Linked DNA regions of Homo sapiens: region 2 is linked to region 1. Evidence: fine-mapped expression QTL. A gene starts in region 1. The other region holds a variant in brackets. All regions are shown on one strand. Distances are from middle to middle. Region 1 holds the start of RAPGEF2 (Rap guanine nucleotide exchange factor 2). Region 2 overlaps SPMIP2 (sperm microtubule inner protein 2).

The links.
Region 2: its variant is fine-mapped to the expression of RAPGEF2 in whole blood (TOPMed, PIP above 0.99).

What each region holds. Positions count from the first base shown.
Region 1 is chr4:159,095,329-159,111,428 of GRCh38, forward strand. It overlaps RAPGEF2 (Rap guanine nucleotide exchange factor 2), which reads left to right and starts at 7,751. Exons shown (of 30, transcript NM_001394067.2): 1 at 7,751-8,903. The coding sequence starts at 8,835. RefSeq lists an enhancer at 6,901-7,592 and silencers at 7,241-7,780, 7,911-8,130, 8,171-8,460, 8,209-8,503, 8,471-8,890.
Region 2 is chr4:158,926,994-158,943,093 of GRCh38, forward strand. All of the region lies in intron 3 of SPMIP2 (sperm microtubule inner protein 2), which reads right to left. Among named protein-coding and RNA genes, the nearest start is that of SPMIP2, 100 kb to the right of the region's middle. The variant A/G (reference allele first, on the strand shown) is at 9,394.

The sequences.
Region 1 (16,100 bases):
ATAGACCCATCTATGAGGCACCTGGCCAGGTTGGTGTGGAGTATTATGGGCTTTTATTGGTTTGTGACTTGGTTTAATTATCACTGGATTCTTACAGAAAGGCTATGATGACACAAACTCATTCCTTTTAGGTGAGATAAGCATAAGGTGAAACTGAACTCTGTTTTAAATGCCATACCAGAACTTATCACTGGTTCTATTTATGTTATGTGATAAGTAAAACACAGGCCGGGCCTGGTGGCTCACGCCTGTAATCCCAGCACTTTGGGAGGCCGAGGCGGGCAGATCTCGATATCAGGAGATCGAGACCATCCTGGCTAACATGGTGAAACCCCATCTCTACTAAAAATACAAAAAATACCTGGGCATGGTGGCAGGTGCCTGTAGTCCCAGCTAGTCGGGAGGCTGAGGCAGGAGAATGGCGTGAACCGGGGAGGCGGAGCTTGCAGTGAGCTGAGATAGCGCCACTGCACTCCAGCCTGGGTGACAGAGCGAGACTCCGTCTCAAAAAAAGAAAAGAAGAAAAACACAGAAGATGGCCAGGACCAATTGTGATATGTCTCTCAAGGGCTTGGACAGTTCTGTCTTCTGAGCCATGTCTCATACATTATCTTCACTTAGTCCCTGTATTGTATTCCATCCAATGCTGACAGTTTCTCTTTTTGCCATTTACTTGTGCTTTCTTCCTTCAGGTCTCTAACTTGATACATGTCACCATTTCATATTTAAGCCTTCCTCTTTAAACTCCCAAAAAGACAATATGCTTTTCTCCTTTGATTTTCCTCCTTAATTTTTTTTTTTTTTGCAAGATAACGGACTTTCTGATAGCTAAAACAAAAATAACAATCTGGCTGGGCGCGGTGGCTCATGCCTGTAATCCTAGTACTTTGGGAGGCTGAGGCAGGCGGATCATGAAGTCAAGAGATCGAGACCATCCTGGCCAACATGGTGAAGCCCTGTCTCTACTAAAAATACAAAAATTAGCTGGGCGTGGTGGTGTGCGCCTGTAGTCCCAGCTACTCAGGAGGCTGAGGCAGGAAAATCACTTGAACCCAGGAGCCAGAGGTTGCAGTGAGCCGAGATCGCGCCACTGCACTCCAGCCTGGCGACAGAGCGAGACTCCATCTCAAAAAATAACAATAATAATAATAATAAAATAACAATTAAAAAAAAGCCTCATTTTCTAAACAGGTCCTCAGTGTGTGTTTCCCATGCCCTTGTTTGCCCTTCACTTCCTTTGCCTAATTTAGATTTGTAAGCTCAACACATAAGCACTTTGTCTTTGTTTATGTACATATGGTGCCTAGCACTAGTCTTGGGTTTACCAAATATTAAATAATCATGACTTCAGAATGATTATTAGTATTGGCATTTAAAAAATCATAGCTGGCCAAGAATACTGTTTTGTTTTGTTTTCTCAAATGACCTTTTCTGATTTTGACACTGCTATGGTCGACAGCTGTACTATAGCACACTTACATTTACCCTTGAATACTACCTGGAGAACAGAGTTGGCACCAAGTGTAGCTGTTTTACTTTTTTGGAACACTTTTACAGATTCTGCACTGCACACCGGTTTGCTTATGGATGTAATTTCAGTTGTGTATAATCACCTTAACAGAACGGGAAAAACCCAGATACCATCTTGTACAATGCTCTATTATGACAGAATTATCTCAATGGGTTAACTTTGCATGTTGGAAATGGGAGGTTTTTTTCTCTTTGATTTACTAACTTGAGCATTCATGATATCTAGTGTAAGCTCTAAAAAAATCTATGCATTAAATACTCTTGGATTATGTAGTGCATTTATATTGTTAGAGTTTAAAATAAAGTTCTTAATTTTACCTGCTTTTAGGCTTAAAAAAAAACAAAAAACTTAATCTGTATCTCTTACCTAAACTCCTTTACTCCCCTTAAAGCTGGCCAAATGATTCTGGACCATCATCCCATGGGCCAATTTATAAAAATAAATGCCAAATACTACATAACAATAGAAGGAATTGATGGTAGATTAGAAGTTTAACAATGCATTTCCTTTTAGAAATGTCAGCATCAGCTTTCTCACAATAAGGGAAATACAAAGGTTGTTCTCTGCCACTGGCCCTATATTTCAAGTGCAAACAAATCAATGAAAGAAAGTAGTTATGTCAGTGTGAGGGATACAATAGTGTAACTGAATAGAACAGTTTCGTTAGTGTGTATATTTTTTATTTTTATTTAATATTATGTCCAGACAGAACCTAGGTAATAATATTGATAAATCAGGGGGAGATGGTTTCCTTTTTCTGAATCAGTTCCAAAATATCTAAACATCTACCTGACCTCTATGTTAGTGTAGTTCTGCGGCAGCATCCTCAACTCTGAATGTTATGATTCCTGTACAATCAAAATGAATAGTCTGATACTCTACCTGTGCTTCTGATACATTTCATCATGAGATCCATCCTATAAACTCACTGTATCTCTCCCTGAATGTCTGTAATTGTACTCCCCATCAGGGACTCTCTGGAATGCTACTTGTAGGTGAACACAATATTTCCTAGTGGAGTGTGCTCACTGAGAATGACACAATGTGTAAACAACACCCTTCCACCCTCCTGAGATTCTTACTGACTTGACTACAAGGGTAAAAGTAATTGCAAACCAACGCTTAAAAAAATGTTTCTAGGGAAAGGGGAGTGGTGTGAGGAATGTCTTTAACAGAATCCAACTTCTCTCAGCTGGAAATCTTGCCTTGAGAGGGTTGTAACCACTGGAGAAAGCAGTAAGGAGAGGAAGCTCTTAGCAGAGGAGGGCAGTTTCCTGGATCCTTTCTATTATCCTTACCCTCCTTATAGGAGAGGTGAGTAAATTAAACCAATGCTTGGCACATGGAACAAGCTCCCAGGAGGCCAGGGAAGGAGCCATATTTGTCTTATTCATTACTGGTATTCCAGGCATGGAGATCAGTACCTGGCACACAGCAAAGCACACAATAAATATTTATTGATGGAGCAGTAAGGGCTTGACGTGTTTTTAAAACAAAATGACTATGTATGTAAAATCTCCCTAATCTTGGGTATAGCTGGACTCACGGGAATTTAAAACAAATATTTTAATTCACTTTTAAAGATGACCCTAAATGCCTAACCCACACGATATATTTAGGGATCTATTAGATTTTACAGTTGGAAAGATCAAAGCTTTTTAAGTTACAAGTAGAATGGTATTAAGGCCAGAACTTGAAAAGTATTTCTGAACTTAAAACCCAGTGCTCTGTCTCTCTTCCCATCCCCCAGTGATTTTCTAGATAATATGATGGTAGTAGAAACAGAACAAAGAAACTCTCATTTTTACACTTGCCTTTATGAGGCAGCATAATAGATAGCTTACTTTGATTATGGTTTGCTGACACAGTTTGGTTTAGACTAATTGGCAGAGTGGCAGATCTTTGTCTAATTCTGTCTTCCAGGTTGTGCCTAGCACATTACTGGTGCTCAAATGTTAATAAAACAGCAATGCATGCCAAGTATCTGATGTCCTAGATGCTGAGTGGTGATATGCATTATTGACATATGTAGATAAGTAGGTTATACATAGTGTGAAAATTAGCTTTAATTGAAGTTAAATGATAGCTTAGAAGTTGACAGTGAGTTAGTCATTTTGTTGGTGGATAAGACATACTATTATGTCTTACCTGAGGTGATTGATGTAATTCAGTGTTACAGTAGAGCACACAGAGAAAAAAGACTTGGGTGTGCAACTGGAATTCCTAACTCTTGCTGTGAGATCTGGCAGAGAGGCATTCCTGTCTGGTGTAGAAGGTCCCCTCTAGCATCCCCCCTCCCCATGGGGCAAGGAGTTCCATACTCTCTGAGCACCTGGAACCCTGGTCCTGACTGCCTTGCCACTTCCAGACCTCATCTTCCAAGGCTGGCCCCTGGCCCGAGGAATCACCAAGGGGTGGCTTTTTTGAGGGGTGTGATATCACTTAGATGTGTAGGCTGGGTTGTCCTTGTCCTTTTTTTTTTTTTTTTGAGATGGAGTCTCACTCTGTCACCCAGGCTGGAGTGCAGTGGCTTGATCTCAGCTAACTGCAAGCAACCTCCACCTCCCAGGTAAAAGCAAATTTTCTGCCTCAGCCTCCTGAATAACTGGGACTATAGGCACACGCCACCACGCCAGGCTAATTCTTGTATTTTTAGTGGAGACAGGGTTTCACCATATTGGTCAGGCTGGTCTGGAACTCCTGACCTCGCGATCTGCCCACCTCGGCCTCCCAAAGTACTGGAATTAGTACAGGCATGAGCCACCGCACTAGCTGGGTTGTCCTCTTATGTGTGAGCCTTTCCATGGGATAGGATGAAGCTGAGATGGAAAGAAAAGGGGATTCCAGTTGCAGACCAGATACCAGTACTCCCTGCAGTAGTACTCAGTACTCCCCCAGTTAATTTGTAGCTTTTAGTATTTATGATAGAGTATATGGATCCCCATTTGTTAGCTGGCTCCAGAACTTTCTAAAGTTAAAGGCAGTCCGGGAACTAGGACAAGTCATGTAGCCTATTTTAGTGTCAGTTCTTCATCTGTAAATAAGATAACACTGTCCCACTAGCCTCAGAGAGTTGCAATGATGAGAATAATCTTAAATATAACTACCATTTATTGAGTATATACTGTTGTTAAACCACTATGCAAGGCACTTTGCATGTATTATCTTGGATCGTCACAAATCTTCAGGGTATGCAACTTTTTCTTTTTTTGTGACAGGGTCTTGCTCTGTTACCCAGGCTGGAGTGCCATGGTGTGATCATAGCTCACTGCAACCTTGAACTCCGGGGCTCAAGATAACCTCCCACCTCAGCCTCCTGAGTAGCTAGGACTGCAAGTGCACCCCACCATGCCCCGCTCCTTTTTTTTTTTTAAGTTTTTGTGCAGCCAGTGGTCTTGCTATGTTGACCAGGCTGGTCTTGAACTCCTGGCCTCAAGCTATCCTCCTGGTTCAGCCTCCCAAAGTGCTGGGATTACAGGTGTAAGCCACTTTGCCTGGCCAGACTATTCAATTTGTACTCTCTTTTTATAAAACAGAAAACAGGCTCAGAGAGGTTAAGTTTCCTCTCCCAGTTTTCTCCCCGCAACCAGGGACACAAGTGAGATAATGTATGTAAAAATCTCATACAAATACAAGGTAACATGAACTACTTCATGTATCCATTTAATACCTATTTGTTGGCTGCCTGTCTTGTGTTGAGGATATAGCAGTAAATAAAAGGGACAAACATCCCTGACTTAGAAGCTTACATTACAGTGGAGGGATAAAACAATAAATAAAATAAATAAGTATAGATGGTTCTCAATTTACGATGGTCAATAAATTGACTTTCGATTTTTCCACTTTATAATGGGTTTATCAGGGTATTAAATGCATTTCTGACTTACAATATTTGCGACTTACAATGGTTTCTCAGGATGTAACCCCATCCTAAGTGGGCAAGCACCTGTACAATATACAGTATGTTAGGTGGTAAGTAAAGCGACGAAGATAACCAGAGTGTATGGAGTTACAGGGAAGGTGACATTCAAATGAAGATATGATGACAATGAGGAACAACATTCTATATTTTGGTTGTTGTGTGTGTGCATTTTTCTTTTTGTTTTTTGTTTTTGTGGGTGCAAGTGGGGTGGGGAGAGGGGGAGAGATAATCCAGGCAGTAGAGGGAACAGCAGATGGAAAGGTCATGAGACTGGAATTTGCTGTTTCAGAAACAACATGGAGGCTAATGTGCTTGGGAACAGAATAGTAGAAGAGGTCAGAGAGATAAAGGTCCATAGGATATTCAGGCCATGGTAAGACTTTGGCTTTTACCTTGAGTGGTATGAGGAGCTAAGCAGAGGAATGATTTGAGAAGGAGTGAAAAGAATTCACACTTTGGCTGCTGTGTTGGAAATGAACTGTATGGCAAGCAAGGTTAGAAAGAGGGGGACCAGGTGGGTGGTTATGACAAAGTGCTGGCCAGACATGATGCTGGATTGCACCAGGGTCATGGCAGTAGAAGTGGTAGATAAAGGTTAGAGTTCAGATATGGCATTCTGGAGGTTGAGCTGACGATTTTTACTGACACTTTTGAGGTATAACAGAAAGAAAGGAGTCAAGGAAGTCAACGTTTTCACCCAGGAAGTGAGAATGGTGTAGATGTGATTAACAGAGGATGGGGAAGGCTGTGGGTGTCTGAGACAGGAGATCTGGAGCCTGGTTTGCACATGTGAATTCTGAGATGTCTATTAGACACCAGGTGGAGATGTCAGTTATATTTTTTCACTTCATTGGGTTTGAATTCTTTTATCTGCCTCTCTCCTTTTTTCAGAGCTGTATTGGCACTTATTCATGTTCCTTTGCTTTCAAGGTAGTGGCCTATGTCATAGAGAATTTGATGTTGGCGCTCAACTAAGAGGTGAAAGAGAAATATAGAGAAGCAGTTCCAGCAAGAGTAATATAAAAAGGTCTACAGATACAATTTGTAACTCAGATTCCCTTTCACAAGGTTGGGCAGGGACAGTCCCTTTGCTAGGAAGTCACACAAGCTGTTTAGTGCACACAGGTGACTTAAGGAACCCCAAAATGTTAGCTGACAATCTATTCCAAGTGTTTAAACTAGATGTTGAAAATCATGTTTGAAAAGTTCAACGCAGTAGCTCATACATAAAACTCATTGTGTCTATAGATATCAAAATAAGAACTTGTGGGGGGTGGGGGCAAACAAAAATAAATCCCTGGGACCAGAACAGCAGAGTGGTCCCCGATGCTTGGGCTGACCTTAACACACCTCTACGTGGCCGGGGCAAGGAGTGGGGGGGAGCTGAGGGAATCAGCAGGAGCGGTGACATCTTGAAGGACGAGGTATTGTTTCTGCACCATGTGGGTCCGGTTTGGAAATTTGAGCATCTAGAGGAGGAGGCTTGTTCTGTCCAAGGCAAAGCCAGACCTACCAATAAATGTTTCTGATTATGTCACAGAACTTGCCATCCTGGTCTGTCGCTAAGGAGTGATCAACTTTAAATCTGGAGTGTTTGTTGGTCTAGGGGTGGTAGTGGGTCTGGTGTTGAAACCTCTCTGCCTAATTTCGTGGTCATTTTACTGTCTGAGGTGCCAGAGTGGGCTTGGAAAGCAGGGGAGGGTGCAGCAAATTACAAATAAGCAAAATAAATCCTAAGAGGATTTATCGCCACAGAAGCAACTCGGACGCAACTCTTGGGCTCAAAAAGAATGCCCAGTACAGCCCGGGCTGGTGGGCCGGTCTTTTGCCCAAGGTTAGCTTTCAGCCCCTGGGCGGCGGCGTGGCGCCAGGAGCGGGCGGGGAGCAGCGACCCGACGCGGCTGGGTCTCCTAGTAGGGCGCGTCGGGTGTGGGGAGGGGGCGCGGCGTGAGACAGTGGGGGACACTGCGTGAGGAAAGCCCTGCGCTTCTCTCCGGGGCACCAGGACTTGCGCCCCCTCTTCGGGTCCAGGCCGCGCGCGGGACCCGACAGCCCGGCCGAGGGCTCCGCGACCCACTTGCGGCCAGAGCGCTGCTCACCTGGGCGCCGCCGAAGGTGCCGCTCAGACGCGAGGGCGCGGCCGCTGGCGGGCGGGGAGCGGGGAGGCGGGACCCGGCGCGACGGGGCTGCCCCGCCCCCCGATGATGCGGCGGCCGCCGACTCGCCCCCACGCTGTCACTCATTCCTCACCATGGTTGCAGCACAAAGCAACAAGCCCCAGAGGCCGCTTCCTCCCTGAGGAGCGGCTCCGGCGGCCGGAGAAGGCGCAGGAGGAGGAAGAGGCGGAGGAAGAGGAGGGGAATCGCCGCTTCCCAAACACTCTCTCCGAGGGGGCTGTGCGCGGCTCTCGGCTTTCGGCCCTCGGACGCCCGCGCCGGGAGTCCGAACCCGGGCTGTCCGCGGCCCCCTCTTCCCCCTCCTCCGCCCCGCGCAGACGAGGAACAAAGTTGCCGAGAGCGACTGGGCCGGAGGGCTGCAGCCCGGGCCGGGTGCTCTGGCCGCGGCGGCGCCGGCGCCGGGGCAGCTCCGCTCCGGGCGCGCTGATGGGGGGAGGCGGCGGCGGCGGAGCCCACAGCGGCGGCCCGAGCAGCAGAGGCGGCGGCGGCGGCGGCTGGGCGGCCCGAGGGGATGCAGCAGCAGTCGGGAGGGACGGCCGAGCCCAGTAGACAGAGACCAGGAGCGGCGGCCGAGGCGATCGGGCTTCGCAGCGCCCGGACCTGAGCCAGACCCACCTGGTCCGTCCTCCCGACCGGCGGCCGAGGCGCCCGAGGACTGGGGACGCGGAAGATCCAAGTGATTCTCGGAGACCCCTGGGCGGCGGCTGCGCAAGCCCCTGAGAGGAGGGGGCGACCCTCAGCGCCGTGGGGGAGGAGGCTCCGCCTGCCCACAGCCCTCCCCACTGCCACTCGTACCTCCCTAAAAATAACTCGGGCCCGCTGGGGCCAGGAGGAGCCGCCACTGTCCCCCGAGTGGAGCCGGGGAGGCGTGTCGAGCCAGGGCCGGAGGAAGCCGGCGGAGCGGCGAGGAAGAGGAGGAGGAGGAGGAAGGGGAGTTCCGCCTGCGGGCCGCATCGCACGGCAGCCTAGGGGCGCCGCGACCCTCCCGGCTGCGTCCAGCCCCTCGCGCCTGTACCGCGCTCTCGGCCGCCGGGCCCAGCCGAGCCGCCCCCCCGCGGGCCCCGCGCCGCCGCCGCCGCGGTTTGGCTGATTAGTCGCGGGCGGGCGGGCGGGCGCAGCGCGCAGGGCGGAGGCAGCAGCGGCGCTGGGCCGGGAGGAGGCCGGCCAGGGTGCGGAGCGGCCCCGGCCCGCTCCCAGAGGGGAGATGGCGTCCTACGTAGATAACAGCTTCCGCCAGGCGGTGATGAAGAATCCCCCCGAAAGGACCCCCCAGGTGAGAACGCGGCGGCCGCCTGCCCTTGGCCGGATTTCTGCCTCGCAGGCTGCGTCTTCCCCTGTCCCCCCACCTCCTTCCTGACACAGTTCGCCCCGAGCACCCCACTTCTTGCATCAGGACCCCCAACTTCCAAAGGCATCCCACCTCCGAGTCTTTTACTCCGCCTATCCTGGTTTTATTTTTCCCTCTCCTTGACATTCTGCTCCTTAACTCTTCCCTCCCCATGACTGACCTTTCCCACTATGTTGCCCAGCCGAGAGAGAGAGAGAGAGAGAGAGAGAGAGAGAGAGAGGGAGAGACAGAGAGAGAGAGAGAGAGAGTGTGTGTGTGTGTGTGTATGTGTGTGAATGTGTGAATTCTCTAGCTTTCCCTCTCCCCAGCCGCCCTCCGTGGCCTCTGAATCTCAGGGGATGGAGTCTCATCTCCCCTCGGGCAGCGACTCTTGCTCCCTCTGACTCCAGATCCGTTCCTCCCCTTGCAAGTGACCCTTGGAGTTCAGTGGTGTTTGAAAGGTATAGGAGGAAACCTGTACGGTTGTGCTAAAGACAAATCCATGCTGACCTTCAGTAAAACATTGAGGTGTTTGTATGTTTACTGTTTTGCTTTTATTTTTTAAAGGATACTGCTTTCAATTGAAGGGAAAAAAAGTTGAATAGCTAAGTTAGTGCTTTTAGTTTAAATTGCAGACATAGCTGCAGAGCAGGCATGTTCCAGTACACCCTCGGGAAGGGCACCCTGCGGATTCTTTTGGTGTTGCACAACCTTGTCAAAATTAGATAAGTTTGTTAACCTTTATACATTTGTTTACCTGCAGGCTTACTCTTCTCTTACTTATAGCGGCTGATAGGGTTGGATTTGGTTGTCTCAAGTTTTACTGGAGAGGGGGAAATTTTATAAAAATGTGGTAGCTTAATTTTCTCCGCCTTTAGTTGCTGACTGGATAATGACGCATATTCCTAAGCGTTGGGATGGTGACTATAGGAGATCCTGCCTGCCAACCCTCTTAAGACAAATAAGCCCTCCTGATCCTTGGGACCATCAGACATTTAGGATCTAATGCTTGAAAGTGTTGCTTCGCTTGTTAGATGTTGGATGCCATCTGTTCAAATCCAAATGCTCTCCTTCTCTGATGTTGATTATTATTTACTGTGGGGAGAGCATAATAAAATAGACTCTTCCCCTGGCTGCCTTTGGACAAGCCCCAAGAGTGGCACCTGGTACCGTTTTTGATTTTTCATTTTCCTTGATGGAGCTGTCACATCTGGGAGATCATGGATAGATTGCACATATTTATCAAACGTGTGGAAGATGGCTGTAATTTTACAAGAAAATTTATCTGTCTCCAGAAAGTTCCCATTCTAAAAGACTATTTTTATCCCAACAAGGAATGTCCTGCATTGATCTTGTTCTTCTCTTGGTGTTGCACACGCTGCCTTTCCTATGCCTTTCTCATCTATTTGTTTTAAAATGGTCAGTTGGATCAGTCTTCTGCATCTGAAAATGCACATTCCCTGTCTCAGTGTGAAGGAAAAGCAGATTTCAGTGAGATATTTCATTTCCTTTCAAGAATATTGTTTTAAGTGCCAAGTGAAATTACGCATGCTGAGAATATTAGAACCTAGCAAGGCTGGTCAGAAAATGATGTCAGAGGCCTTTGGTGGAAATTAGAGAAGGGGGAAGTGGTGCATTTGGTTGATTAGTTAGAAGAATAACAATGACTAAAACCTACTATCAGGTTGGGGGGCGGGTCACCAAACAAGACTAGAAGAGACAAAACCTCCACTGTGACTGTGGGCCCACTGTGCCAAATAAATGAACTGTTAAACTTTCCTGTTCCCCTGCCAGTTGTGTAGAATAGAGTAAAAACTGACCCAACACAGAACTTGGCCTGGGCCAGCTACTACTAACCCACGACATGAAAGCTTTATTGACAGTCGGAAGGCAGCCCATTTGCCCTACCAAACCTTCATAGAAAAAGTAAACATAAGGAAACCTACCAAACATTTCAAACATTCCTAAGTGTCAGCCCTATTAACTTTGATGTTCGTTTGGTTATTACTACAAATCCCCACGTTTATTTCTTTTCAAGAGAAAGTTGTTCGAAATGTGAACGTTTTCCATCTTTACCTGACTGGCCAGGAGTAATCTTATAAAAATTTGAAATTTACTCAAAAATTATAAAAAAAAAAGTTTTTGTAGAAGGTACTTTTTATGTTAAGAATGCTTTGTTAATGGAACGCTGGAAGATTTTCCATACAGCCTTGTCTTATAAATGTTTGTGAGTTCGAATTTTATAATATTAGAAAAGCAACCATGTTAAATAAGCTTGATATCATGAACAGAAGGACAGGAATTAGGAAAGTTTTGCTGTTTTGCTTCCTTCTGTTTCTGAGGATAGACTCGATAAAGGAGTTTGCATGATTCTCGTTATAGGCAAAAGGAAAAGAATTGGGGAACATATGTAATTTTTTTTCCTGCTGTTCATTTCTGTTTGTTTTTTAAAGGCTTGCTGGCCTCATTCATTTCCCAAGCTCCGTGAAAACATAGTTTTGTATTTAGGTCAATCAATTGCCTAGAAGTAATCCTGATGTCATTGGTGTAACCTAAGAAGTTGGCTAGAAGAGAATCTAGGGGTGGGAAGAGTACCAGGAACTTTCATAAATTGGGAGCTTTTCATGTCCACCTGCACAATGGAAACGCATTTCAGTTATATCTTTAGAGAGGGGGAATAGTAAGGAGAAATACCAAAAAAATTATCATCTAAGTTTTAGCCAGGTTATACATACTCAGTTTCAAGAGACTATCACTATTTCACCTGATATTGTGAGAGGAGGAGGAAAACTCTAATCCAATGTGTGTCCCATATTGTGTGTCTGGAAACCTGGCTGAGTTCTAGTCAATGGGGCATTGTATTCTAAATAACAAACTTCCTTGAAAATAATGAGCCCTGAAAACATTCTACTGATATTTTTCAGTGCACCTCTGTTGAAAAACAGGACTCTTAAGTAATTGCTTTATTTAACCATTTGGGTTTATGTCTTTAATCACTTAAATGAGAAGCTTGGTCACCAAGGCAATTTGGTGAAGTAAAAGATGTAAATAAATTACAAACAGCTTTTATCCCCCAAGGCTTATACAATAAAATGGTTTTTCTAAACCATTTTGTTAACTTGTTGAGTTCAGGCCCTTTGAAATTGCTTCTGTAGAGTGTCTAAATGCATACCATTTTCAGTTTTTCAGGTGAAACATCTATTGCAAAACTGTTTCTTCTCTTTAAAGACCTAATGTAATGCATTTTTAGCTAGTTGTAAAAGTTACTGTTAAAAATGTTATGTGTAAAATAACCCCCACCCCATCTCCTCCTATTTAATAATCTTACTTTTTTTTGGGCTATTACAACTTTTGATATAAGTACTAACTCATTGATGTGTTATAAAGAATACAGGACTTAATTCATTGCTAAGTACTTGGTAGAATTCATCGTGAGTCATAATGAGAGGGCTGAAAAAAGTAACTTTAGCTCAGAGAACTGTAAATTATGAGAAACGGCATGAAAGAATATCTCTGACAAATATTTAACTTTCAAATCTAATGGAAGAATTGTGTCTGTTATAGTTAAATTTTCCATTTGAGTTTCTTTTTACCATTGCTTATAAGCAGACTCATATTTGTCAGCTTATACTCTCATTATATTTTAGCCCATTTTGGGGCTCTAGTAATATTTGTTTCTTAAATAGTTTTTGTTCATAGAATACAACTAAACTATCTGTATGCCATTTAAAAAGCATGTCTCATAAAGAAATGATTGGCCACAAGCAGTTAGATTTCATAACAATGACATTTGAATTTCTTGGTACAGAAATACATTTATAACTGAAATATTAGCTTCAAACTCTATTGGTATGTGACTTTGAACAAATGAGGAATTAAATTTATGATAAAAATATTAACATTCCTTGCAATATTGATAGAACCTTAGTCGCCTTCAAATAACCCTTTAAACATTTAGTAATTAACAGTTCCATAATTAGCTTTGCATATCTTGGCTAAGGTTCAAAATGAAAATCTCTCCAACTGCAGTGCTTTATGCAGATACTCGTTTAATGCAGTCGCAGTCATTCCCAAATGCTGGAATTTCACAGAACTTTCTTTTTTTTTTTTTTTTTTTTTTTAAGGAGAAGATGACCACCTTGGTTTTTCTCTCAAGAAGGAACATAAAATAAAAACAAAACTAGTTATAACTTCTTATCACTATCATTTAATCTCACTGTTTTTAAGAAAGGAAGGATGCAGTGTTATTCTAAAGCTCAGTTTTGAAAGAAAATATTGTTTGCGTCATAAGAAAATTCACTGCATTTTTTCATTTAAATTTTACTTTGGACCTGAAAAAAACTTATTTGGGTAGATTTTGGATGATTTAAAGAATCACAATAAGGTCTTTCTTTGGTGATATTTGATGAGATGGGGTGCTTTCAGGATGGTATGGCGATAGACAATGTTTGGTAAGAGAGCGAGATATATATATTTGGAATAGGGTCTTGCTTTGTTGCCCGGGCTCACTGCAGCCTCTATCTCCCAGACTCAAATGATCCTCCTGCGTCAGCCTCGAGTAACTGGGTCTACAGGCTTATGTCACTGTGCCTGGCTAATTTAAAAAATTTTTTGTAGAGATGAGGGTCTCGCTTTGTTGCCTAGACTGGTCATGAAGTCCTGGGCAGAAGTGATCCTCCTGCTTCAGCCTCCCAAAGTGCTGGGATTACAGGTGTGAACCACTGCACCTGGTCCATTGGTGATAATTTGAAATTCAAGTTGCATAAAATTATAATGGGATGCGCCTCAGATATAAATGGACTATCCGAAATAATGATATGATAACCTTCTAGAAATAAAAACTCTGATTTTGCTTGATTCATATGAAAACTTAATGAGAAAAAAAGTATTCCTTCTTTGTAAATTTTATATGGAAGTAACTTTGGCCAGGAGTGGTGACACATACCTGTAATCCCAGCACTTTGGGAGGCTGAGGTGGGAGGATCTCTTGAAGCCCAGGTGTTCAAGACCAGCCTGGGCATCATAGCAAGGCCCCGTTTCTATTTAAAAGAAAGGTAAATTTGATTTAGACTTAGGAGATATGGAAACCACTGAAAATCGTTGGTCCTTGATAATCCGTATTTTATGGGGTATTCCTTCTCTTCACTCCATTTTTGGTAACAATTTCCTCGTCGGTAAAATGGATAATAGCTGTCTGAGGTTTTGTGGATTAAGTGAAAGTACATTATTTAGTGTAATGCCTAATGTTAGTCCTCTTTATAGCATATTTTATACAATTTCTATTATTTAACAGGCCTTGGGAATTCAAAGATGAAATGTGTGTCCCTCAAGTAACTCACTAATCTATTGTTATAAGTAGATTGTAATTCATGAGTGCTGTAACAGCTATCCTATGACAGCACTGAAGAGGATGTGGACTTCCTAGATGAATATGTATTGAGTTGTAGGGGAGTAAGAATTCACCTACCAGTGAACTAGTGGACCTGAAGTGGTATTCCAGATTGACCTACTGTCATATGAGTAGCACACCTGGTAAGACAACATGTGCAGCTCTTTGTTCAGTGTGCTGGGAACCAGGGGACTGAGGAGGGGGTAAGGAATGATTACTGGCATTTAGAAGCTCATGGTTTGTGAGGGTAGTGAGGAGACCAAGAGTTCTGTTAAAGACTGATGTTCATTTTCCTGGCTTGAGATGGCTGGGAAGCTGAATTACACAGTGGTGATGGATTAGAAATATTGCAGGAGTAGAATCTGCTGGACAGGCTGGCTGAATGTGTGCACGTTTTATATCTCATTATAGTAAAACTGTGTTTGAATCATACCAGTGCAGCCTAATTATGGCACAGGATGATCATGGATATTTCATAGTTCATAGGAAAAAATCCAAGTTGTTGAATATAGTTTTCTTGATTTTTAAGGTTTCTCACACTATTTTTTTCCCTTAAACATTAATGTCTTCTACTACATGTACATTCTGGGAATCTAGTTTGAAATATCTGGTTAATCATATAGTTAAACTAGGCCAGGTGCTGTGGCTCATGCCTCTAATCCTAGCACTTTAGGAGGCTGAGGCGGGTGGATCACTTGAGGTCAGGAGTTCAACACCAGCCTGGCCAACATAGTGAAACCCTATCTCTACTAAAAATACAAAAAATTAGCCAGGTGCCTGTATTCCCAGCTACTCGGGGAGACTGAGACAGGAGAATCACTTGAACCCTGGAGGCAGAGGTTGCAGTGAGCCGAGATTGTGCCATTGCACTCCAGCCTGGGTAACAAGAGCGAAACCCCATCTCAAAAAAACAAAACCCAAAACACCATCATGTAGTTGTACTAAATATATTTCTTAATCTGTAATGATAATGTGATTTCCAAGCATTTCATCATTTGGAAGAGTTGGAGAACTTCTGAATTTAAGCAGGCAAAAATGAACTTATTTATATAAAAACTCAAAATTGACTTGTGACGACACAATGTAATGATGGCATTGAGTCTTTGAGAACAGTTTTTTACTCCTTTATACCATTTTTTGTTTAGATAAATTAATTGATGTTGGTAAATTAGGAGAAGCAATCTGTAGTACATATAATTGATCTTGTAACTTTATCAGAGCTAGAATATATATTTATGTATTTATATAGTTAAAACTATGTTCAAGTGATTATGTCAGTCATTGTAGGAAGAAAAATAAGTTTATTGCCGCATTATTTTGACTTCTAGAATTTTTATCTTTTCAGGAAAAAAAAAAACCACCCTTGTTTTCACATGCAAAATCGCCACTACCTACTGAATTTTAAGAAGCGTGTGTTTCTTGCTGTATTCAGCTGTTTCCTTTTTCCCTCCAGTCTGTGAAAGAATTTACCCTTGGTGCGGTGGTGGTGGGTTTATTGGTTTTTGTGGAGGAAACAACTTGGTCCTTGGATTTTAAGTTGTCCTGGCTCCACCTCTTCTGTGCTTTCATATCCATTATGTATAAGAAGTGTTTTGGGAGAGTTAGTGTCAGTGACTTGAAGAGGAACTTTGTTTTGTCATTGGAACTAAACTTGTCTTCCGCTGGCTGTTGTTTCTCATTGCTTGCCTTCCACAGGTTGAAAATAATGGACTGTGGAGCTTTAGAATTAAAATAAGTGAATAAAAATGTACATT
Region 2 (16,100 bases), 170 kb before region 1:
CTAAAATAAAATTAAATTTACAAAAAATGTGAGTGGGGTATTTAATTGTCCAACTATTATTGTTGAATTGTCTATTTCCTCCTTTAGTTCTGTCAGTTTTTGCTTCATGTGTTTGTGGGCTCTGTTGTTAGGTACACATTTATTTATAATTGCTGTCTTCCTGATAGACTGACCATTTTATCATTATAAAATGCCCTCTTTTTTAAAAAATATATTTTCCAGCTGGATCTGGAGACTCTTAAAAATGCTCTTCTTTATCTCTGTAACAACTTTTGTCTTGGAGACTAAATTATCTGACATTAGAGAAACCATTCTAACTCTTTGATTACTACTGTCTGAGGTATTTTTTACTTTCACTTTATGTGTCTTTGAATCTAGAGTATATCTCTTATACACAACGTATACTTGAATTATGTTTTCTTCCTTTTTCTTTTTTTGGCCAATCTCTTACTTTTAAAAATTTTATACTTATTTATTTTTAGAAACAGGGTCTCACTCTGTCACCCAGGCTGCAGTGCAGTGGTATTGAGAGGTGACAGCGTGCTGGCAGTCCTCACAGCCCTCCCTCGCTCTCGGCGCCTCCTCTGCCTGGGCTCCCACTTTGGCGGCACTTGAGGAGCCCTTCAGCCCACCGCTGCACTGTGGGAGCCCCTTTCTGGGCTGGCCAAGGCCAGAGCCGGCTCCCTCAGCTTGCAGGGAGGTGTGGAGGGAGAGGCGCCAGTGGGAACCCGGGCTGCGCAAGGTGCTTGCAGGCCAGCTGGAGTTCCCGGTTAGACTGGGCTTGGTGGGCCCCGCACTCGGAGCAGCCGGCGGGCCCTGCTGGCCCCGGGCAATGAGGGGCTTAGCACCCGGGCCAGCAGCTACGGCGGGTGTACTGGGTCCCCCAGCAGTCCCAGCCCACCTGCGCTGCACTCGATTTCTCGGCGGGCCTTAGCTGCCTTCCTGTGGGGCAGGGCTCAGGACCTGCAGCCCGCCATGCCTGAGCTTCCCACCCCCTCTGTGGGCTCCTGTGCAGCCTGAACCTCCTCAATGAGCGCCGCCCCCTGCTCCACGGTGCCCAGTCCCATCGACCACCCAAGGGCTGAGGAGTGCAGGCGCAAGGCACGGGACTGGCAGGCAGCTCCACCTGCAGCACAGGTGTGGGATCCACTGGATGAAGCCAGCTGGGCTCCTGAGTCTGGTGGGGATGTGGAGAACCTTTATGTCTAGCTCAGGGATTGTAAATACACCAGTCAGCACACTGTGTCTAGCTCAGGGTTTGTGAATGCACCAGTCGACACTCTGTATCTAGCTACTCTGGTGGGGCCTTGGAGAACCTTTATGTCTAGCTCAGGGATTGTAAATACACCAATCGGCACTCTGTATCTAGCTCAAGGTTTGTAAATACACCAATCAGCACCCTGTGTCTAGCTCAGGGTTTGTGAATGCACCAATCGACACTCTGTATCTAGCTACTCTGGTGGGGCCTTGGAGAACCTTTGTGTCCACACTCTGTATCTAGCTAATCTGGTGGGGAGGTGGAGAACCTTTATGTCTAGCTCAGGGATTGTAAACGCACCAATCAGCGCCCTGTCAAAACAGACCACTCAGCTCTACCAAGCAGCAGGATGTGGGTGGGGCCAGATAAGAAAATAAATGCAGGCTGCCAGAGCCAGCAGTGGCAACCCGCTCGGGTACCCTTCCACACAGTGGAAGCTTTGTTCTTTTGCTTTTTGCAATAAATCTTGCTACTGCTCAGTCTTTGGGTCCACGCTGCTTTTATGAGCTGTAACACCGCTAAGGTCTGCGGCTTCACTCCTGAAGCCAGCGAGACCACGAGCCCACCGGGAGGAACAAACAACACCAGACGTGCTGCTTTAAGAGCTGTTAACAGTCACCGCGAAGGGCTGCAGCTTCACTCCTGAGCCAGCGAGACCACGATCCCACCGGAAGGAAGAAACTCTGAACGCATCAGAACATCAGAAGGAACAAACTCCAGACGCGCCACCTTAAGAGCTGTAACACTCACTGCGAGCGTCCGAGCGTCCGTGGCTTCATTCTTGAAGTCAGTGAGACAAAGAACCCACCAATTCCGGACACAGTATGATCTTGGCTAACTGCAGCCTCAACTTCCTGGGCTCAAGTGATCCTCCCACCTCAACCTCCTGAGTAGTTAGGACTACAGGTGCATGTCATCATGCGTGGTTACTTAAAAAAATTCTTTTTGTAGAGATGGGGCCTTGCTCTATTGCCCAGGCTGGTCCCACGCTCCTGGCCCCAAGCAGTCTTCCTGCCTTGGCCTCTCAAAGTGTTGGGATTACAGGCATAAGCCAACATACCCAGCACAATCTCTGGCATTTGATTGGATTGTTTAGTCCATTTACATTTAATGTGGTCATAGTCATTGATTTGGTAGGATTTATGTCTGTTATTTTGCTATTTGTTTTCTATAAGTCTTAAATATTTTTTGTTTCTCTATTTCTTCATGCTTGCTTTTGTGGTAGATATTTTCTATCATTTTAGCCTTGCATTTCATTTAAATAGTACACTATTTTAATTCCCTTGTTGTATCTTTTAGTATGCATTTTTGAGTTACTTTCTTAGTGGCTGGTCTGGGGATTATCATTAATATCTTATTTCAAAATAATCTAGTTAGGATTAATACCAACTTAATTTCCATCATATGAAAAACTTTGCTTCAGTATAACTCCATTTCCTCCTTCCTCCTTTGTGCTATTAGTTTTAGACAAATTACATTTTTCTAAATTATATGCCTATCAATATAATTCTATAATTATTGTTTTATGCAGTTATCTTTTAAATCACATAGGAGAAAAGAGAAGTTACAAATCAAAAATATATTAATACTGACTTTATAATATACCTATGTAGTTACCAGTGCCCTTTATTTCTTCATGTGGATTTGAGTTCATGTGTATGGTCCTTTCATTTTAGCCTGAAATATTCTCTTTAGCATTTCTTGCAGGGCAGGTCTGCTAGTGAAAAAAATTCTCAATTTTTGTATATCTGAGAATATCTTACTTTCTCTTTCATTTTCGAGGCATAAAAGCATAGTATTCCTGCATACTACAAATTTCTGCATACATAGAATTCTTGGCTGACAGTCTGTCTTTTAGCACTTTGAATATGTCATCCTCCTGCCTTCTGGCTTCCATGGTTTCTGCTGATAATTCATGTTAATCTTATTGAGGATCTCAGTCTCTCTCTCTCTCTCTCTCTCTCTCACTCGCTCTGAGTTGAAAGAGTCTTGCTCTATCACCTAGGCTGGAGTGCAGTGGTACAATCACAGCTCAGTGAAGCCTCGACTTTCCAAGCTCAAGCAATCCTCCCCACCACAGCCTCCCAAGTTGCTGGGACTACAGGTGCACACGACTTTGCCTATTTTTTGTATTTCTTATAGAGACAGGATTTCATCATGTTGCCAGGCTGGTCTCAAACTCCTGGGCTCAAGGGATCCACCCATATCAGCCTCCCAAAGTGCTGCGATTACAGGCATGAGCCTGTAATGCCTGGCTTTTTTTTTTTTTTAAGAGATTCTGTCACCCAGGAGTGTAGTGGTGGGATCAGAGCTCACTGCAGCTTTGAACTCCTGGACTCCAGTGATCCTTCTGTCTCAGCCTCCTGAGAATTTAGGACTACAGGCATGCACTACCATGCCCAGCTAAATTTTTTATTTTTATTTGGATAGAGATGAGATCTGACTACATTGCCCAGGCTGTTCTCAAACTCCTGGCCAGGCCTGGCCTCAAGCAATCTTTCTGTGTTGGCCTCCCAAAACACTGGGATTAGAGTCATGAGTCACTGTGCCCAGCCTTTACTAAGGATCTGTTGTATATGATAGTCATTTTTCATTTTCTACTCTCCAGATTCTCTGTCTTTACCTTTTAACAGTTTGACTGTGATGAATCTTTGAGCTTATCTTACTCAGAGTTTGTTAAACCTCTTGAATATATAGATTACTGTTTTTCATCAAATGTGGGAAGTTTTGGCTATTATTTCTTCATATATTCTTTCTTCCCTTGTCTCTCTCATTTACTTCTGGGATTACCATTTTGCTATGTTGGCACACTTGATGGTGTCCCACAGTCTCAGAGGCTCTGTTCATTTTTCTTCATTTTTTTTTTCTTTTCTGTCAGAGTGGATAATCTCAATTGATCTATATTCAAGTTCACTGATTACTTTTTGACAGCACAAATCTACTCTTGAGCTCCTCTAGTAAATTTTAGTAAATTCTTTATTTTTTATTATACTTCTCAACTCCAGAATTTTATTTTTAGATGTGGTCTCATTCTGTCACCCAGGCTGGAATGCAGTGGCATGATCTCGGCTCACTGCAACCTCTGCCTCCTGGGTTCAAGCAATTCTTGTGCCTCAGCCTCCCAAGCAGCTGGGACTAGAGGCACTGTCACTATGCCCAGCTAATTTTTGTAATTTTGTAATTTTAGTAGAGACGCGGTTTCATGATGTTGGCCAGGCTGGTCTTGAACTCTTGACCTCAGGTGATCCACCTGCCTCGGTCTCCCAAAGTACTGGGATAATAGGCATGAGCCACCATGCCCAGCCCAGAAATTATCATCATCATTATTATTATTGAGACAGGGTCTGGCTCTTTTGCCCAGGCTGGAGAGCTGTGGTACAATCTCACCACAACCTCCACCTCCCAGACTCAGGTGATTCTTGTACCTCAGTCTCCCAAGTAGCTGAGACTACAGGTGCATGCCAGCACACCCAGCTAACATTTGTATTTTCAGTAGGGATGGGGTTTCACCATGTTGGCCAGGCTGGTCTCAAACTCTTGACCTCAAGTGATCTGCCCACCTTGGCCTCCCAAAGTGCTGGTATTACAGGTGTGAGCCACTGCATCCAGCAACTCCAGAATTTTTAAAATAATTGCTATCTTTTTATTGATACCCTCTGCTTGATAAAACATTATTCTCATACTTTAACTCTTTAGATACAATTTCCTTTAGTGCTTTGAACATATTTATAACAGCTGATTTAAAGTCTTTGTCTGAGCCGAGCATGGTGGCTCACACCTGTAATTCCAGCACTTTGGGAGGCTGAGGTGGGTGGATAGATTGAGGCCAGGAGTTCAAGACCAGCCTGGCTTCAGGTAGAAATACCGGGTACAATTTGTTTTTCTTTGCGTAAATAAATAATACATCTGTTTATGCAGTGTTCTTTTAAGGAAGACAATTAAAATTCTTAACACTAAACAATTTCAAGAATTGTATGTCAAAGCCGGGTGGATCACTTGAGGTCAGAAATTAGACACCAGCCTGACCAACATGGCAAAACCCCATCTCTATGAAAAATACAAAAGTTAGCCAGGCATAGAGGTGGGAACCTGTAATCCCAGCTACTTAGGGATCAGCTGAGGCAGGAGAATTGCTTGAACCCAGGAGGCAGAGGTTGCAGTGAGCCAAGATCGTACCACTGCTCTTCAGCCTGGGTGACAGAGTGAGACTCTGTGTCAAAACATACATACATACATACATACAGAATAAATAAAAATATAGTTTTTGTCTGGTAAATCCAATGTTTCAGTTTCCTTGGAGATAGTTTCTATCGACTGTTTTTTTCACCTTGTGTATGGGCCATTTCTCATTTCTTTGGGTGTCTTAATTTTTTGCTTTTGGCAAATGTCCATGGGGTAGAGCACACAGAGAGTCAGGTCAAACAAAAACAAGCCCTGAGAATGAAGCTTTTCAGGGGATTTCAAGACAAGTCAAAAATGACATTTCTTTGGGTACAGGGCTTCTCAAAGAGCTTCAAATCTGTGTTCAACTTCCAGTGACTGGTAAGCTGCTGATGTTCATAGTTTCCATGGATGTGAGGCTGTTGGTTTTCAAGGCTGCCATGGAGCTAGGAAGAGAGGAATGGGAATAGTACAATTTCAAATGGCACAAAAATCATTGTTATTACAAAGATTCAGCCATGTTTCTCAAATGAATGCTCCAAGAATTGCTGCAAGCATTTGGTTTATTCCCAGTGGTTTCTTGTTTATACTTTATTTATTTATTTGTTAATTACAGAGTCTCGCTCTGTCACCCAGTCTGGAGTGCAATGGCGCAATCTCGGCTCACTGCAACCTCCATCTTCTGGGTTCAAGCGATTCTCCTGCCTCAGCCTCCCAAGTAGCTGGGATTACAGGCACACACTACCACGCCCTGCTAATTTTTGTATTTTTAGTAGAGACAGTGTTTCACCATGTTGGTCTTAAACTCCTGACCTCAAGTGATCCGCCTGCCTTGGCCTCCCAAAGTGCTGGGATTGCAAATGTGAAAACGTGCCTCCAGTGTTTTCAAAAAGGTGATTTTGATGATTTTTGCCAGTGTTCTTGTTTCTTTTTTAGAGGAGCATATTTTTGGAGGTCCTTAGTTCACCATTCCTGAAGTGCTTTCCAAACTGTATCATTGTGAAATGAAACAGAGACTCACTATTTAAAGGAAAAATTGCCTTTTCCTTTTGTTTCCACTTCTTCATTTGCCCCTCCTCCATATGCTGAAGTTGTGCCTTGGGTTGCCATTACTTCATTGTAATGGTTCTTACCCCAGCCAACAGCAAGCTCTTTTCTGTCAGATAAAATCATCTCTTTTCAGACTTTCATATATGGCTTCTCAGAAGCATCTGTGATTGTTGACATTGCCTTCTTAGAAACCCTTTCCTCTTGGACTTGCAAAACTTTTTTATGTCTCTCCTTCTACCTCTAATATTATTTCATCTATATTTCTTTTGGAAGAATCTTTTATTCTTTCTGTTCCTTTACCATTGGTATTTTCTAGAATTCTACCCTCAATTCTTATCTCTTTGTACACTGCCACTCACCTCCAGGCCAGGGAATAGTATTTATATCCAAGAATCAAACCAACATCAACATATTGATGTTTAAATTTTTTACTTTCAGTTCTTACAATCTAGACACAAATGCCTGACTTTTTACTGGACATCTCATAGCTGGTAATACTTTCTAGTACGTATTGAGACATATGAGGTTACAGACACTATGCCAGTTGGTTTATATGTATTATCTCTCATCTTTCTAATAATTTCTTATAATAGGTATTATTACCCATTTTTTACATACTCAAGATCAGACTGCTAAAAAGCAGAAAAGCTAGGACTTGAACTCAGAGTTGTTGCCTTCCAAACCTATGCAATTATCTCATCTATAAAATAGGAACAGGTCAGGTGTGGTGGCTCACACCCGTAATCCCAGCACTTTGGGAGGCCTAGACAGGTGGATCACTTGAGGTCAGAAGTTTGAGACAAGCCTGGCCAAACAGGTGAAACCCCATCTCTACTAAAAATACAAAAGGTTAGCTGGGCGTGGTGGTGGATGCCTATAACCCCAGCTACTCGGGAGGCTGAGGCATAAGAATTGCTTGAACCCAGGAGGTGGAGGTTGCAGTGAGCCAAGATCGTGCCACTGCACTCCAGCGTGGGTGACAGAGCCAGACTCAGTCTCAAAAATAAAATAAAATAAAATAGGAACAATAATGTAATACTACTTATGAGGGTTAAATGAGTTAATACTTATAAAGCATTTAAAATGGTATCTGACCCATAGTAAAAATTTATACGTGTTAGCCGTATTATTATTATTATAGAATGCTGCCTCTCAACTTATCTTCCCATCTCTCTGCTTTCCCTACCCACCTGTCACCCCTCAAAATACTCTCTCCTTCTTGTGTTCCCTATTTTGGTCAATGATATAACCATATACTCTGCCACCCAAGAGAGACATATCAGAATTAGCTTTCATTTTTACTTCTCCTCCATCCCTCCACATTTAGTTGGTTGCCAAGTCTCATTGTGTCTTTCTTTAAGCTATCTCACCACCCCCAGCTCTCTAATTCAGGCTCCCATCATCAGGATTATTGCAATATCACGTAACTTGTCTCCCTCGGTCTCTCCTTCCTCAGCTCCATTCATTCAGCAAACAGTTTTCTATACCTATTATATATCAGGTATTCTTTCTAACACATGGATTTGATTATATCACTTCCTTAAAGAATTTAAAAGAACAGGTCATTGCCTATTAGAATTAAGCACAAAATCTTTAGTGTGGAGTTTAAAACACTATGCAATCTTTTTCCCTATACTGCAATTCCATCTTTGCTTCCCACCAAACTTTTAAAACAATACCCTGTGTTTTCGCCATACCAGACAACCAGTCATTCCCTTAAGACATCATGATGGTTCACCCTTCCATGCTTTGGCTTATGCAATCCCATATGGCTGGAATTCCTTTCCTGCCTCCACCTCCACACTCTTCTTTTAATTTCCCACACAGCCTTGAAAATGCAGCTCAAGTGTTACCTCTCCTACAAAGCATGCCTCAGTGTCTACCCACCTGCAACACTGGGACACAATGATTCCCTCCTGTCTTCCCCACAGACCATTGTTCATACCCACGACACTTGGGGTAGTCATGTTGACTCCTTCCCTCAGTAAATCTGTGATAAAGGGAAGGATTCATTCCTTACGTCTTTGTGTCTTCAGCATCTAGCCGAATTCCTGACATAGATCACATTTTCAGTCAATTGTGCTTGTTTCTCTAATGATACAAAAAAAAAGTGTCTGTCTCTGGTGACGGAAATTGTGACTGCACAACGATAAAGGGTTTGGAGTGTGGTAGAACTGATTTTAAATAACAAAACATATTTAAATTTTCCTTAAACATTGTTGGTTATTTGAGAAATGACCAAGATTCTCCTAGCGGCCTGAACGTCTGGGAAATGGGGTAAGAAGATAAAATAGGCTTCAGCCTTCAGTGAGGAAAGGACTGGCTGTGCCTTACTTATATAATGTCTAAAACCAATAGGACAAACTCCACTTTAATTTTGACACTTTAGCCAGAGAAAACACTCCAGAGGGCTGAAGAAGGGACCCGCCGGGGCTGCTGCTGAGCTGGGTCTTTGGTCTTCCACCTTTTTGTGACTTGAGCTGGGCCCACAGTAGCATCCATGTCAGCCATTTTGATTCACGACCAAACAATTCAATGAACTCTCAGTATTTTGGCAAAATAAGGAGCTTGAATAAACATGTTGACTTAAATGGATCAAAACAGATGGTTATTCTGGATAACTGACCACCCAGCTTCAGTCTTGCCCAGAAACAAACCTTATATTCTTCTCTTTGGCATTCTGACCCACACCTTCTGGAGATTCTCTGGTTGACTAAAAATAATTCTAATAAGTGGCAAAATTAATGTCTTTTTGGATTCCAAAATTAAAGAAAGAAAATCACTGTTTGTTTGAGTTCCAGGGAGTCAGTCTAGTTGCCTAATATAAACCGCAGAAACAGTCATTCACTTGAGTTTCACATAGAGAAATAATGTGGAAACTTCCCTTTAGGACTTCAACATTTTCCTTGCAGCATCAGAACGTG[A/G]TGTAACTCTGTGTATTCATGTATTTCAAACTTGTGAAGAGGACCGGTGCCATATCTGTGCCGTGACTTAAAAGCACGACCTGTTTCCTCAACAAGCTGGTTTCCTTCAATGTTTGCTTTCTCACAGTGGTACCGATTTCTGCTCTTTCCATTTCCAAAAGTACTAAAAAGCCATTGATGGCACATGGAAATTTTTGAGAAACACATTTAGAAACCATTTGGCAGGATCTGTGCTTTCTGGGAGAACAAGCCTTCTTTCCCTGTTATTTTCCCTTTGGAAGATTCACAGGAAAACAAGACCTCTGCTCTTTAAAGATCTTTTTTGTGTGTGATGGTGTAGTCCACACCTACAGAATCTTCCAAGGAATCACAATTAGGGCTTTAAAGATGTATTTAATCATATTTTCCTCGCTACATTGGCTTTCCACATAGGTGGGGTGGGTGTTACTGCTGACACAGACATATGTGGTATTTCAGTGACACTGGCTGCCTGAGAAAACACTCCCTTTTGTCCTTCTCTGCTCCTTTTTATTCCAAAACTGGAGGTTAGGCTAACAGTGCACACAGCTAGGAGAGGTACTATAAGGCATGATCACCCACCCCTTCTCGAGAGAGCATATCTTGAAGGGGTAATACCACAAAGGAGGAACGGGGGAAACCAATGCTACAGGTCCGTTTTAGACGTATCATCATTGAGCTGATCCAACCTTATTTCTCAGACATTAATCTTCCTTTTCTCCCTGCCGCCATAGAATCATTCATGATAATGTTGTATCTTGTTTGCAAAACATTTCATCTTAATCCTCTGGGAGAACACTTATTTGATACTGGATCAACAGTTGTCATGGAGATGATTCAAAACAGGAAGTTATCTTTATATTTTGTATTTGGATGAACGAATGACTAGACAACCATATTTAGCAATTATTAATAGAGAAAAATTTAAACGTTAATGGAGTTTACCCAAGGATAATTGTTGCCTGGGAGGTTCTTGGTAAGTGCAACCGAAAGGGGTTTATAAAAAGAAGCAAAATTTTAGCGATCAAAATCCACAGGAGCTTATAGAGATTTATCTAGAAGGCATGGGTCATGCTTACTTGTTTTATGTGCAGTCTTCAGGATGCTGGGAAAATCGAGGTTCTACTTCTGAGTGGTGGCATCCTGTTTAAAATAAAGGTCCAAAGTAACATCCAACTGTTTAATCAAGACAATTTGAGGCACTTAGCAGCCTTAAGGATCCAGAATCTTTCCATCTGTTTCTTCTGTCTTTAGACATTGTCTTGGGCAGAGTTTACTGAGCACACACTGACTATGTGTTCAGCCATGTATGAGGTCCTCTGGGAACCCACAAAGAAAGTGAACAGTCTATGTAATATAGACTCATGGCAAAAGGCACAAACATTAGTATATGCATAAACAATAACTGATTTACGGCTATACCTGTGCATGAGTGAAATGGGTACTAAGAGGTTATTTGATGACAATAAATTCCAAGGATAATCAGTTGTTCATGATGAAATATGAAAGATAATTTTTTATACCAGCTTAAATCTTTTATTCTTGCTTAGGAGTTTCCTCCCTCCCAAGACAGCAAAAATGTTTATGATCTGTTTTACATCATTAACAATTCAAACATGAATTTATGAAATGGGTCTGCGTATCTATGGACAAAACTATTTTGCAAAAATGGTAAGAATTATTTAAATTTCTAAACAAAATTGGATGATCCCACATTAGTATGATACCCATGCTGTCTGGGGATCAAAATGAAATCGCTCCCCGAAGAAGTATTTAAGAAAGCACAAGAGACGTCATCCCAAATTGCCAGTGTACCTATTTCAGACAGATGAATATTGCTTAAATGCCATTTTTAAAAGGCAGAAAGAGGTAACAAAGTGTAAACATATTTATTTTTCCTTTAAGAAGGAAAAGCCCACTCTCTAGGGCTCTCCTCTATAAGGGAAGCATCAAAAAGATTATGCAGTTCAGCCAAATTACATGCACCATATGCTTCGAACCTCAGGTTGTGACTGTTTTGGTTTGATTTATTGCTTTGATTTCATAGGAATACAACCACTCTACTTGAAGGGCTTGTTAAATATTCTACCACTATTCTAAAGAATTAATTGAAACAAGAAAGGTCTCACATTATGCTAAGTGAACACTTACTCGCTAATTTGCCAGATTGCCTTCCCCAAGCTCCAGAATGTGAAAAATGCCATCCTTGCCATAGTGACGTCACCAGGACATTGCTGGTTGCCCTTATGGGCTCCAGCTGGGCTTCTAGTTACACCAGTCATGCACTCTAAATCAAGCATGTTGTCTTCCTGGGCAGAACAACATACTGCAAAAGGTTACTGTTGCCAAGAGTTTGTCCATGATGTAAAAATACACAGTGTTTATTGATTTTCATTCAGTATTTTTAAATGATTTATATGGAGTAATGAGCACATCAGGTTTTCTCCTGCACACAGCCTCAGAGGCAGCTGTCCAAAATCTTACCAGAAATGTGGCCTATTAGATCATCTAGGGTCATCTATTAGAAGTGTTGAATATAATTCCCGGTGTTCCCAGAGAGGTGGGAGATTTTATAAGACATTCAGGAAGGTCTTCCAATTCCAACAGTTTGGGGCTTCTGAAACTAAACCAAGTCCAGTTTCTCTTCACGCTGGTGCTTCCTCAGCATCACTTGCTAATTTATACATCAGAGGGCAACACAGGGAAGGAAGGAGGACAGTGTTTCTGTGAGCTGATCGGTAGCAATTGGAGTGAAGGTTCTTTGGGAGACTATAGCAGTATTGACTCAGTTTAGTTTTGGATAAGTTTATCTATCCAGATGGTAAATCTTGACATGTATTAACTAAGAATAAAGTTGATCCAACTTATTTTAGTTACTTTGCAAATTTTAAATATACACAAAAAAGACAAAATAGTATAAAGATCCATAGAACTAATCATTCAACTTCAAAAAATATCAATTTATAGACAATCTTATTTCATCTCTATCCTACTTACTAATCTCCACACCACCCCATAATATCTTTTGATATGACTCTCGAAAATATGAAAATTCTTTCTTAACATACATTTCTCCTAAAAATTTAAAAATTTTGACCAAATATTCAGTATTCAAAAGTCTGATTTGTGTCATGTTAGGAATTTTTAACAGTTTGTCTGTTAGGACAATCCAAGTAAGTCCCACACCTTGCAATTGGTTAACTTTCTTTTAATTCATAGGTTCTCTCTCATCTCTTTGCTTCTCTTCTCTTTCTTCTCCCTCTTCTCCTCTTATTTGTTGAAAAAAACTGGGGCCGGGTGTGGTGGCTCACACCTGTAATCCCAGAACTTTCGGAGGCCGAGATGAGTGGATCACCTGAGGTCAGGAGTTCGAGACGTGAGCCAAGATTGTGCCACTGCACTCCAGCCTGGGTGACAGAGCAAGACTCTGTCTCAAAAACAAAAAAACAAAAGGATCCTTTATTCTATAAAATTTTTCACAGTACACTTTTCTGATAACATCTCCACGATGTCATTTAGCATGTTCCGAGGTCATCTTATTTCCTATACATTGTCAGTTGGCTTTAGAGGATTGATCTGCATCAGGTTGGGTTTTCAGGGGGCAAGACTACTGTATTAGTTTGTTAGGGCTGCCATAACCAAGTATCACAGACAGGGTGGCTTAAACAACAGAAATGAATTTTCTTACAATTCTTGAGGCTAGAAGTCCCAGATCAAGGAGTCTGCAGTGTTGATTTCTCCTGACGGCTCTCTCTTTGGCTTGTAGATGGCCATCTTCTCCCTGTGTCTTTACATGGTTCTCCCTCTGTACTTGTCCAAATTTCCTTTTCTTATGATCCCACAATTAGGAGGGATTAGGGCCCACCACAATGACCTCATTTTAACTTAATTACCTCTTTAAAGGCCCTATCTCCATATACAGTCACATTCTGAGGTAGTGGGAGTTCGAAATTCACCATATGAACTTGGAGAAGGAAACAATTCAACCCAAGGAAACAATTCATCTTGGGTGGTGGTGTGTTTTTCCACCAAGATGCACTAAATATCTCAGCGTCACTCTTTTTGTGGTTTTGGCAGCCCTGGATTTTCAGTCCCTAGATTCATTGATTCATCAGGGTTTCCAAAGTGGTGATGTCCTAATTCTGTTGTTCCTTCTTTTTTTTTTTTTTTTAGCTGAATAACCTTGATTCTTTTTGAAGTCATTTTATTTTCTATTTGGTTATGCACTAACATATTGCAAAGGTGGAATTAATGTTTCTTTCCTCTTATTTACCGTTTTCAAAATAATGAGTTGGTTTTAAAATAATGTAACCAGTTTGTTGTGTTTTTCCTAAAGTGACAGTATGGACTTGTGAATGTTCATGGATACATATGTGGATATGTATGTATGATGTATATTGATCCATTGCAGCTATTGCCCTTATTGTTCAAGTTGTCCAGTTTTTTTGGCCAGCAAAAATCTCTCCAAGTTTGGCTCCTAAGTCCCTTAGACAGGACTGCAGTAGTCTCTGATGGCTTTCTTGCTACCTGATATGGCAAGATGTTCTAGGTTCATCTTTTTCATTTCCTTCTCCAGATCCAGAATCAGCCATTTCTTCAAGAAGCACCAATTTCTTTTAGGAGGAAAGGTATTTGAAGAATCTAAGTACTAGGAGACATCACAGCTACTGAGTTGATCTCTATGTCTAGGCCTTTACAGAGAATAGCGCCAGAAAAAAAAATGCAAATGCACACGTACAGATAGACAAATAGACATATATAATCTTCCAGTCAAATTCAGGGTTTGTTTTTCAGGTATTTTATGTTAACATCTGTGTTTTCTCTCTCCCACTCCAAGAATGCTGGTACTCAATCAAACCAGGAATGATTGAATAAGAACATTATATGATTGATCATTTATCCCACAATATACCCACAACAGAATCTGAGTAACACTATGAATGCCTCAACCAAGCTTTCTGCTGTTCTTTTTGTTCTCTGGATATACCACATTAGAGATTTATACTCACTGGGTGGTTGAGGTAGGAGGATTGCTTGAGGCCAGGAGTTCCAGACAAGCCTGGGAAACATAAAGAGACTCTGTATCTACAAAAAAATTTTAAAAATTAGCTGGCTGTGGTGGTACCTCCCTGTAATCTCAGCTACTTGGGAGGCTGTGGCAAGAGGATTGTTTGAGCCCAGGAGTTCAAGGCTGCTGTGAGCTATGATCACATCACTGTACTCTAGGCTGGGTGACAGAGGAAGATCCTGTCTCAGAAAACAGAAAGGAGATTTCTGCTCAAATTATTGTGCTTTAAATCTCTTGGAATAACTCTACTCTGTGAATTAAACTATCAACTAGAAACATGTGGCTTTTTAAAGAAAGTAATATTTAAATTAATTTATAACTAGGTAAGAAATGTACCTGGTTCCAAAGAAAAATCAAGGGTGGAACCAGCATTGCTCTATTTTTTTTTTCTTGTTGCTGTCATTACCATATGGTTCTAATGCAGATTAAGAGATGGTGGTGTTCTGGTAGATTTGGAGGAGGTGATACTTGAATCATGTCTTACCGAACAGCTGCAAAGAGTGACTTTGGTTCTGGTAGAAACTGTCTTGAAGATCCTAGCTCTGCTCAGTGAAGAAAACATTTGTTCTGCCACCCACCATGTAATTCATCCTTGAATTTTAATGAGTTAGCCTTTAGGCTGCTAGACAGAAACAAGCCACAGCATACTGCATAAACCCTGCCATCTTTACATATTGCTGTAGAAGCTAGAAATGAAAAGTTTTTATTGTCAAATGTGTGGTAATTGTGCTCCAAGGTAATTCATCTGAATGTGTGACGTTCCATTTCTAAAATAGCAGCATCTTGGAATCTAAGTCCAGCACTTCTAGAAGCTAACTCCTACCAACACTTCAAGCTCAGGTGAACTTATTGAGCCTTCCTGATCCCTGTTCGAAGTTAGGCTTCCGGATATGTGTTTCCACTGCACCCTCTAAAATCCTCCCTGATGTTAACAGGCTTTGCACTCAGTTGTTAAACTGTGTTAAGTATCCAAACCCAGCATCGAGCATTGTATCAGCACAAATAGGTAATCCTGGCTGGACACTGTGGCTCACACCTGTAATCCCAGCACTTTGGGAGGCCAAGGCAGGCGGATCACTTGAGGGTCAGGAGTTCGAAACCAGCCTGGCTAACATGATGAAACCCCATCTCTACTAAAAATTCAAAAATTAGCCAGGCATGGTGGTGGTGGGGAGGTGCCTGTAATCCCAGCTACTTGAGAAGCTGAGGCACGAGAGTCACTTGAACCCGGGAGGTGGAGGTTGCAGTGAGCCAAGATTGCACCACTGCACTCCAGCCTGGACCACAGAGCAAGACTCTGTCTCAAAAAACAAAGAAACAAAACAAAACAAAAAACAAATAGGTAATCCCTAAATGTTGGTTAACTCAAAATTTCTATCACTGCATCCTAATATACTCAGGTAAAATTACCTATTTATGTATTCTCCCCACCAACCAGATGATAAGCTCTTTTAGGGCAGGAATTACGTTTTATTTTCTTGGTACTATACTTGTCCATAGTTTGATGGAATAAAAAACATTAGTGATGCTGTTTGAAAATTGAATTAGAATTACAAAGAATAAACATGAGCTGCTCTTAAGAAACATAAGTTTGAGTCAACATTTAAATATAAAGTGATAA